Linked DNA regions of Homo sapiens. The protein of the gene in region 3 interacts with the protein of the main gene of each other region in a pairwise test. Each region holds a gene or a part of one and is shown on either strand. Other genes may lie near its edges. The genes, in order: KANSL1, PSMA1 and CDR2.

The links.
Region 1: the proteins of CDR2 (region 3) and KANSL1 interact in binary tests that used the Homo sapiens proteins (3 or more experiments, as listed by UniProt).
Region 2: the proteins of CDR2 (region 3) and PSMA1 interact in binary tests that used the Homo sapiens proteins (3 or more experiments, as listed by UniProt).

Annotation. Positions count from the first base shown.
Region 1 is NC_000017.11:46,036,275-46,039,929, forward strand, and holds part of KANSL1 (KAT8 regulatory NSL complex subunit 1), read right to left. Parts: intron 3,611-3,655; coding exon 3,428-3,610; intron 2,942-3,427; coding exon 2,753-2,941; intron 2,413-2,752; coding exon 2,264-2,412; intron 1-2,263. UniProt on the Homo sapiens protein: Non-catalytic component of the NSL histone acetyltransferase complex, a multiprotein complex that mediates histone H4 acetylation at 'Lys-5'- and 'Lys-8' (H4K5ac and H4K8ac) at transcription start sites and promotes transcription initiation.
Region 2 is NC_000011.10:14,510,232-14,513,886, forward strand, and holds part of PSMA1 (proteasome subunit alpha type-1), read right to left. Parts: coding exon 3,586-3,655; intron 3,469-3,585; coding exon 3,339-3,468; intron 721-3,338; coding exon 641-720; intron 1-640. UniProt on the Homo sapiens protein: Component of the 20S core proteasome complex involved in the proteolytic degradation of most intracellular proteins. This complex plays numerous essential roles within the cell by associating with different regulatory particles.
Region 3 is NC_000016.10:22,368,066-22,371,720, forward strand, and holds part of CDR2 (cerebellar degeneration-related protein 2), read right to left. Parts: intron 1-3,655.

The DNA.
Region 1 (3,655 bases), on a different chromosome or scaffold from region 3:
GCAGCTACTGGCTTTTGGGAAGCACTGACAAAAACACTCGCTCTCCTCCCTACCTTTCTCCAGTGTCCTCTGGCTTCTTTACTTGATTTCAAGGAGAGCTGGCCCTTTGTATCCATGGGTTCAACCAATTGTGGATTGAAAATATTTGGGGGAAAAAAATTGTGTCTGTACTGAAAAGGTACAGATTTTTCTTTTCATTATTCTCTAAACAATACAGCATACTATTTTTATAGCATTTACATTGCATTAGGTATTATCAGTAATCTGGAGATGATTTAAAGTATATGGGATTTAAAGCATACACATAGGTTATATGCAAATACTATGCCATTTTATATTAGGGACATGAGCAACAATAGCTTTTGCTATCTATGGGAGGTCCTGGAACCAATCCCCACTGCAGATACTGCAGATACTGAGAGCCTGCTGTTATCTGGCCTATCTTCTTTCTTTTTTTTTTTTTGAGACGAAGTCTTGCTGCGACGCCCAGGCTTGAGTGCAATGGCTTGATCTCCGCTCACTGGAACCTCCGCTTCCCAGTTCAAGTGATTCTCCTGCCTCAGAGTAGCTGGAACTATAGGCACATGCCACCACGCCCAGTTAATTTTTGTATTTTTAGTAGGGATAGGGTTTCACCTTATTGGCCAGGATGGTCTCGAACTCCTGACCTCAAGTGATCCACCCGCCTCAGCCGCCTCCCCAAGTGCTGGGATTATAGGTGAGCGCCACTGTGCCTGGCCTATCTTCTTTTACATAAATCCAGAGTCTTTGAAAAAACTTGGCAATGAGAGAGCCTCAGGGGTTAGCATAGTGCTATACACAAAATTTTTACTCAATAAATGGTAAAAATTTCAAGTGATCCAGGCCTAAGTTAACATTCTCCAGACACAGAAATATTGAAGTGCTCACCAAGTCCTGAATCTCTGAGTTCAGATTTTCTATCAGAATTAGTTTAGACTCTTTTTTATAAATACTTTGGTTATCTGAAACCCTTTGCTGCTGGATAACTGAGTATGTGAGGGACACTACACACCTATTTAGATAAAATTTGTGGGTTACGGGGGTAAAGAAAGTCGAAGAGCAAAGAGACCATTTGGAAAAGATTGATTTGTAACAGCAAAGAGAGAACAATGTGAATTCCTACCTGATCACAGGAGCCTAGTGAGTCCATTTTATGAGCTTGGAAGTTTCCTGATCTAGGCTCTGAAGGAACTTCCTAAGTTGCCTCTGCAATACCCTCACCCAGGCTTAGCCTGTGTAGTGTAATGGTAAAAGAGCTGGCTCTACAGTCAGGCTGCCTGAGTTTGAATCATAATTATAACCCTCACAAGTTGCCTTGACAGTTTTCATGCATATAAAATGAAATCCACAGTACCAACCTACATCTCAAAAGGCATTATAACATGTAACACATGTAAATCACTGATCACTGGTATGTAGTAAGTGTTCAATAAACATTACAGTTGCAGACTTTTACATTTACCATTACATTACATTGTAATTATTATACAAAAAGGACCCTTTGAGTAGGTCCATAGCAGCTACAGGTATGTATGTTCCAAGAGGGCACACTTGAGGAATTAAAATATTAGAATGAAATTAAAGGAAATGTGTCTGGAATAGCTGTGCAAACTGCTTCCAGATGGAGTGTGGTATCGTAAAATCTGGTGTGTGCATGCCAAATGTCCTGCCATGGGGGCCTGCTGGATCTGTAATTCTGCTCTGTATACCTAAAAAGCATGGACTCTGCCTTCTCCCTTCCCTTCTCTTCTGGTACCCTCACGCCTAGTGTTTATTCTTAGTACTTCACCTCCACTCACCCAGAGAGTAAAACCAAGGAAATCAAACACTGCTTCCAACGCCCATGGGAATCTCCCCTCTACCCACCCCTCCTCTCTTGTTCACTTCTTGGGCCAACAGGATTAGGGCCACGGAACTGTTGAGTCCTGTGTGAAACTTAGTCCAACAGATCTTGAATAGTCACAGATCACCTTAAGAGTTTGTCCCTGCATCAAGCTTTCTATGGATGGCTCAGCATAAATCCATCTCTGCTATGAAAAACAACTCAAGAAAAACAACAGAAGGTCAAGTACCATGACTTTGACTTAAAAATGGTACAGACATACATACATATGTCATGATGAGCTGAGATCCTATAAATGCCCTGGGCTTTATAACCCACCCTCACACTGTCCTCTGGAGCCACTTGAGTGAGCTGTGACCTGCAGAGGGGGTGTCCGGCCAACCCCACACAGGTACTTACCGATGTGCTGGCTGTAACCTGTGAGCTAGAGCTGGCGGGTGCAGGGGAATCTGAGGAGGTGGAGAGCTGTCGCACCAAGGGACTGTGTGGAGGATGGTGGGTGGCTGCCAAGTAGCTCGAACTGCTCATGTCTGTGTGATGCTTCAACACTGCAGAAGTCAACAGAAAAGAGAGAAATACATGGCTATCTTAACCAGCGTTACTTCTAACACAAGCTTGGAATGGCAGCAATACATACTAAAGGCAAAAATGTTTTCTATGCCTAGAGGATAAAAAGGTGAAGCACACTAGCTGTGGGAAGTAGGGGCAGGGCAGAGGTTGCTGTAGCAGTTAAGAAGTGACCTCCATTTAGAAGCAGTAGCGTCCCTCTACTCTGCTTTCCTAGAAAGTGAAGGACAAAGCTGGGGGTAATTAAGAGAAGCCTAGGCTGCCCCAGAAAGCCCTGAGCAGGTGCAGTTGCAGGTAGAGGTGCCATGGGCCTGGCCCTACCTTCACTTCTCTCAGATGAATGGTCTCGCAATCTCATTTTGCTGTGGTTTGGGTCATGCACGGGTGGTGGTGGGTTGAGCAAGCGCTCTGCTTTTGGCGCTGTCACTCGCTCCACCATGGGCACGGCCCCCACATCGTCTAAGTGCTGCCTGTGGGTCCTGTCAGGCCGGGTTTGGTGATGGGACAGCTCTGAAGAGGGGAACAGAAAAAGAGCTGTGAAATATGTCCTCTCAAATATTTTCTTATTCGAGTTCCAAGCTCTCGAGTTCTCTCTAGGCCAACGCCGTATACCCAGGGCAGCAGGACAGTCCTTCAGGACTGAAGTTTCTAGTAATTTGCACAATGGCTAGGATAGGCACAGGGAGCCCAGAACCAGAGAAACATGTCACCAGGATACAGAAGACACCTGCCCGTAGATGAACTCAATGCCATGCCATTGCTGGCTGTTCACTGAGCATTTTGGGTCTTGCTCCAAGATCCATGGTGTCTAGAATAGCTCCCGAAGTCCATCTGAGAGCATCCAAGACAAGCAGAAGCAGTCACTGTGAGCTGAATTTTTTATCGGTCAACTGCCTCTCCCAACCCCAACATGCATGCAAACTACAAATTTGAGAATATAAAAGGAATGAAAAGTCACTGATACTCTGGGGGACTTCCCGGCTCCCTGACACTTACTGGCTGTTGTTAGGAAGGAGCTGACCAATTTGTGCCTGTCCTTACGAGCTGAATCTGGCAGACTGCCCGGCATGGGTGCTCTGTGCTTAAGCGATAACTTTTTGGGAGGTTTGATTTTGTCAAAAGGCTTGTTCTGCCACTGAGATTTCAGCATGCTCTGGAAATGCAGGCTTGTGGGAACATCTGCAAGAAACATAAAATGCTACAGGTTAGTCCAAACACCTGGCC
Region 2 (3,655 bases), on a different chromosome or scaffold from region 3:
AAATACTAGGGCCTTTGCATTTGTATTTCCTAGAATAATTTTGCTCTAGATCTGCATAGCTCATACTCACTTACCTCCTTTATATCTTTTCCTCAAATTTCATTTTCTTGGTGAGAATATCCTCAACCACCTATTTTAAATTACACCTACCTACATCCAATTGGTCATTCTTTCTCCTTTTAACGCTTTTTTATTTTTTACATAGCATTTATCTTCTTCTAATATACTATATAATGTACTTATGTATATACTGTCTATCTTTCCCTACTAGGATGTACGTTCCATGAAGAAAAAGTTATTTGTTGTGTTTACTGTATTTTCAATGCTTAGAAAGTGCCTGCACATGGTAGGTGCTCAATATATATATATTTTTGTTAACTAAATAATACCAAGATATGCCAATCTGCTGAAAATAATGAAGGACATTTTGCATGAAATTTACTGGTTTTACTGCTTTGTACCAAAAAGAAATGTTTAAAAAATAAAATTGGATTACTTAGCAAATAGCTTAAAGGAAAAGAATCTGCCAAGACAATCATATCCCAAATTACAGAATGTTGCATATATACTCCATTACATTTATGCAATAAAGGTTTAAACTGTAACGTTAATATCTACAATTGGAAAAGACAATACTTACCTTTGTAGTCAGGTCCTGTTCTGCAGGAAGCGTCTCTCTTAAGGCACGCAGACCATGTTTAACTAGTTCATTTAAATTACCTATATGTAATAAATTAACAATTATTTCTTAATTTCATTGTTATGCTAGGCTTCTGTTATTTATCAAATCTACAGTCTCAAATTGTGGTTTTTAGTTACACACTAAATTTATCACAGTAAAAACAGCCAAGTTTAATGCTAGTCATATAATCTTTTAATAGCATTCTATGACATTGCTGATTCTTATTTTATTTAATGAGAGGACTCATGATTTTTGTTACGATTTTGATCTTCTCTTTTGCTAGGTCAAATCAAAATCCCGACTATAAATTATACAACTCCAAGTTTTGTAGAATGTGTTCTGTAGAATCCTAGTCCTTATATTTGCTCATTGTAAAAAGGAATCTCCAACTTATTCTATGTGGCCAGTATTACCGATAACAAGAATAAAAACATCACAAGAAAATAAAACTACAGACCCAATATAGATGCAAAAACAAAACAAAACAAAACAAAACCCTCAACAAAAACTACAAACGGAACCTGGCAACACATTAAAAAAATTATATACCATATACAAGTGAGATTTATCCCAAGAATAAGTTAGTTTAACAACTGAAAGTCAGTGTAATTTTCAGTTACACTGAAGGAAGGGAGAAAACCTGCATAACCACCCCAAGAGATGCATAAAAAGCACGTGATAAAACCTAAAATGTTTGCATAATAAAAACACAAAACAAACTAGTAATTGAAAGGAACCTCTTCAGTCTGATAGAGGGCATCTACAAAAAGCTGACAGGTAACATCAATCTTAGCAGTGAATGACTAAAACCTTTTCCCTTAAGTTTAGGAACAAAAAAAAGAAGGTTTGTTCATGCAACTTATATTCATCATTGTACCAGAGGTTCCAGCCACGGCAGTTAGAAAGGAGAAAGTAAAACTATCTCTATTCCCAGACAACATGATCTTAGGAATCTATAAAAAAATGACTAGAACTAATAAACAAGTTCAGCAAGATTGCAGGATATAAGATTGATATATAAAAATCAACTGTATTTCTATATAGTTGCAATGAATAATATGCAATGAAATTAAGAAAACAATTCTGTTCACAACAGCACCAAAAATAATAAAATACTTTAAGACAAATATGATTTGTACACTGAAAACTACAAAACATCAGTGAAAGAATTAAATACCTGGTTGGGTGTGGTGGCTCACGCCTGTAATCCCAGCACTTTGGGAGGCCCAGTTGGGCGGATCGCCTGAGGTCGGGAGTTTGAGACCAGCCTGACCAACATGGAGAAACCCCGTCTCTACTAAAAATACAAAATTAGCCAGGCGTGGTGGCGCATGCCTGCAATCCCAGCTACTCAGGAGGCTGAGGCAGGAGAATTGCTTGAACCTGGGAGGCAGAGGTTGCAATAAGCCGAGATCGCGCCATTGCACTCCAGCCTGGGCAAAAACAGTGAAACCCCGTCTCAGGAAAAAAAAAAAAAGAATTAAATACCTAAATAAATGAAGATATTCCATGTTCATGGATCAGATGCTTTGTATCATCAAAGTAGCAGTACTCCCCAAAATTATCTATAGATTTATTGCAATCTTTAGGAATTTCCTATCCAGGTTGAAATGTGCTAGGCAGAGGGTGCTGATATGAGCAGTTCTGAACCAAACTTTGGACACTGAGTTTCTAATGAGCTTCTCTGGGCAGAAACATCACATACATATTGCTGCAAGTGTACTCTGTGACTCCTTATGGGAAGGAAAGAGCATAAGGAAGCCTGCACATAGATTCCTCTGGACTGTATTTTTCCTTAATGATCCACCTATGTACTGTTATTTTATTGTTAAAAGTCTTACCTGGGAGTACAACTATATGCTGTGCGCTTTAAGTCCTAGCATATCTCCAAATTTAGGGGTAACCTTGGGGACCCCAAACCATTTACCATAATTTACAATGTTAAACTTTAAGCCAGCATTTACCAAGCTTATTTGTCCAAGGAATCCTCTTTTCCCAAAGTTAAACCTATTGTCATCCCACAAGTTTGCTTTGAGTAATGTCAATTAAACTATTTTTCTCTGCATTCACTAAACCCCAAATATTTCCTCCAAAGAATGCTTTGTCACCAGAAAACAGATAAGATGACAAAGAGAAATGTAAAACCCGATACCCTCCTTCCAATGCAAAGCAAAGCACTTGAAAACCTGTCCTGTCATAACATCTTACCTCTTTTACCTTCTTCTCCCTCAACTACACTGCCTTTTTATTTCTTGTTTATGGACTACTAATGCAGAAATGTCTGTGTGGCTTAAAATAACAAAAGACTCACAGAAAACTAAAAGTGAACAGAGCTTACAACTGGCAGGTAGTACAGTGGTTCTCCACTCTCCACTCCACAGGGCACACTTCTGACCAAATGAATCAAGAATTTTCAAGGTTGGGAACACATTTATATTTTGAAAAAGTTCTACTCGTGCTTGAAACTACTGTGGTAACCAGAAGTTAAGATTAGTATATGTGACAGAAACAATAAACTCTTCATGGGCATAATTTTTTTTAAAAAAATTCTTTCTATAAGACTTACAGTTTTATGCATTTAGGATACTATGTTTATTTACTATATAGACTGGAAAAGGCAAAAAAAAAAAAAAAAAAAAGCAAGGCTGTCACTTACACTCCATAAATTCAGACATATGTCTCTCCAAGTAAGTACGAGCTGATTGGGAACGGGCTCCAATGGACATGGCTCTGCAGTCAAAATAGTTAGCAGATGGACAGGTTTGGAAAATGTGAGGGCCCATATCCTACAAATAGAAATAAATACACCACATAATTATTTACTTTGGTTGAACTAAAAATTATAAAAATTTCTAGTTAATTAAAAAAAATCATTAACATATAACAATATTCAATGAACTTACATCATAACCAGCAATAAGGAGACCAACACCATATGGTCTCCGGCCATATCGTTGTGTTGGTATCTGGGTC
Region 3 (3,655 bases):
ACAGTGAGGCCCTGTCTCAAAAATAAAAAAATAAAAAATAAAGACTTCCATTAAATCTATGAAATAACTTGTATTTACAAAACACAGAACTTTTACAAATAGCTCAAAGCATTTAAGAGACATTAGTCTTTTTCTTGTCATTATTTATTTATTTTTTTTGAGATGGAGTCTCTCACTCTTGTCACCCAGGCTGGAGGGCAGTGGTGCGATCTCGGCTCACTGCAACCTCTGCCTCCTGGATTCAAGTGATTCTCCTGCCTCAGCCTCCTGAGTAGCTGGGATTACAGGCACCCACCACCACACCTGGCTAATTTTTGTATTGTTAGTAGAGATGGGGTTTCACTATGCTGGCCAGGCTGGTCTCGAAATCCTGACCTCAAGTGATCCGCCCACCGCGGCCTCCCCAAGTGCTGGGGATTATAGGCATGAGCCACTGCCCCCAGCCTACTTTTTGTTTTCTAGAGACATTAGTCTTTATATCTTTAAAGGTATTTAGTCCAGTTTCTCAGATGAGACAGCCTGAAGCACAAAACTGTTAATTGACCTAATCAAGCTCCAAGGTGAGTCACAGATCAAACAGAAACTCTTAGGTCAACAGGTTCTCACTCTCACTCTCATCACGATTCTTTGTTATCTTCATCTGCAGAGTTTTAAGGCAATTGAAAGAGAGGTCCGCAGGCTTCTTTAAGGTAGAGAATACAAATGTTCCCCTTGTTGAGGTACTTAATTTCTTCTACTTGTTTTCACAGATTGCAATGAGAAATTAGAGTTCAACTATTTGGGTTTTTATTGCCTGCTCTGCTAGTGAAAGCACATACAACCCCAGGCAAGTTAATACCCTGTTTTCACCAAATGAAAAAGGAACTATGTATGGCTCAACATGTTCCAGAAAAAATGATTTTGTACTCACAGAGTGTGTAATGTGTATACATAGACCCATATGGAAGCTACCACACTGTATTAAAGACAAAGTATAAAAACATTACCTAGGTATTACTTAAGTCTTTCCTTCTTAAATGTGTGAAGTGGTAATTCCTCACTGGGAAGGCTCAGATTCACCAAAGATGCTCTTAACCAGCAATCAAAGCCTGAGCCAAGGACCGGGTGTGGTGGCTCACACCTGTAATCTCAGCACTTTGGGACGCCAAGGCAGGAGGACTGTTTGAGGCCAAGAGTTCGAGACCAGCATGGGCAACATAGCAAGACCTTGTCTCTTAGCAGGAAAAAAAAAAAAAAGAAAAAAAACAAAACCCAACTGGGCTGAAACCTCTCCCAGAATCCAGACTGTCTTGAGACTATCACCACTTTCATTCAGTTATGGAACTACCTGTGCTACTTAAGAGTAGCCAGGAACCTCTTCCCTGCTCCTGCAGAAAGAGATACCAAGGACAGCACTCTTTAGTAGATAGCAAACAAAAAAGAATTTGAGACTTGTCCTTATCTCAAACCTTATTTCCAGTAAAACAAAGCACCAGCCTGGCTCAGAAACCTGAAGTCTCGATCTCCTAAATATTTATAGGCTGTTAAGGATAGAATTTTAACAAGTCCCAACTACAAGAAAGCTCCTGTGAAGTCACACTGTATAACAGGATATTACTTCATCTGTTAGCTTAAAGACACCGGACTTTGTCTTTAAAAAAAGTTCATTTCCTGTTGAGTAGCAGCTGGCTTCCATAACCAAAAGAGGCCAAAAGCTGGCAGTAAGCCCAAGAAAGTTTTCTAAATAATTAGTGGAGGGAATAGAATATTGAATGTCCCTTATAGTTTTAATTAAGGCACAAAAGAAAAGGAAATAATATAGTTTCGAAGCCTTATACACCTGTTCATCTCTACAGGATTACAAAATGAATTTTCATTAAGAGGGTCTTCTCTAAATCCTATTGAACTGGCCTGGTTTAGGCAACTACTAAAAATACTGTAGATTTATTGCAGGCTTGAGAATTTCAACATATCAATACCTTCATATGTTGAATATTCTTTCACTAATGAGTCTTTGCAGGTAATAATATATTTTTAATGGTGTAAACTGTTAGCTTTAAACAGATACTCAGCTCTATGCTTTAGGCAAAAAATTAGTACTGGCAGCTGTAGTCTGTAGGAGTAATTCACTAACAGTAAGGCTGAAAGTTTTTCCTATTACAAAGTCAAATGCGTCATTTAGTGATGCTTCTGTTTAACTCCTGTTGCCAATGTTACTATAATTGGGAAAGCAGAAAACCTGAATATAAATATCAAGAAAAATGATGTTGTCAGTTTTAATAACCCTCCAAACAGTGATTCAGCAAAATAGTTGTACACAAGGAGGATGTACTCATCCTGCAATTTTAGGATTCCTTTAAACTAAGAGTTCATTTACTGATCCACATAACAGAAACCTGAATCCTTATTCTAAGTTTGCACAGCTCACCAAATGACAATAGCAGCTGGTTTAAAAGAAAATCCAGTCTCTGAAGTCTTTCCACCTTGTTCTCAGGGGCATGTTTCAAAGCAAGCACCATCATTACCTGCACTGAAGGCTCCTGCTGTCCCAGAAAAGATCTTACCCACAGAGATTATTGTCAGTATTCCTACTGAGCCAACTCAGCTCTCTGACAAAAGACAGTCTCTTCATCAAAGAGTTTTGTAACAGCAAAGGGTTTTCTCCTCCTGCCTACACAAAAGCTTTACATGTTTCTAACAAGGTATGAATAGTAGACCAGAGTTTACTGAGGTTAGAAATTTCCAGCAATTTCAATTTAAAAACGGATACCCTAGGAAACTTTGATACAAAGATTCAATCTATTCAGAGCATGGCTTACTACTGCTAAAGGAAAACATTCTATAGTTGTAAGATACTGAGAACAGGATCATTAAAAGTTGTTTTCCAGCCAGGTGCGGTGGTTCACGCCTGTAATCCCAGCACTTTGGGAGGCCGAGGCGGGTAAATCACGAGGTCAGGAGATTGAGACCATCCTGGCTAACATGGGGAAACCCCGTCTCTACTAAAAATACAAAAATTAGCTGGGTGTGGTGGCACGTGTCTGTAATCCCAGCTACTTGGGAGGCTGAGGCAGGAAAATGGCTTGAACGCGGGAGGCGGAGATTGCAGTGAGCCAAGAGCGTGCCACTGCACTCCAGCCTGGGGACAGAGCGAGACTCCACCTCAAAAAAAAAAAAAAAGTTTTAAGCAGTTCTCTCCAAATAAGCCTTGCTCAGTAATAATAATGAGGATGTTAAAAAACGGACAGATGCCTGCACATAAAATCCCACTAGACTTGCTGAATAATCTGTTTAACAGGACAGACCTGCTCCCAAACTTAATTCAGCAGCAAGTGTCTACTGAGGGCCTACAATGTACGAGGCGCTGTAGTGGGCACATCCCATGAGGCGGCACCTCCAGGCTTCTCTAGTGAACAGATTCCTGGAACATTCACTCTATGGGAGTAGGAATCCTACCTATCCACTCATGTGGGGAGGTGCTGTGGCCCCAGGGCCCAGGCGAATACCTGGCAAAGAGCAGATAATACATTTTTGAGAAATGAACAAGTTTTAAAATCTGTTAAAAGTTTAGGAGTTAACATATAACTTAGCAAAACTGGGGAAAGGATACCCTTTTATTCACACTGTAGCCTTTATTCTTTGACAGGCCATATTCACAAGTTACAATTGTTGGAAT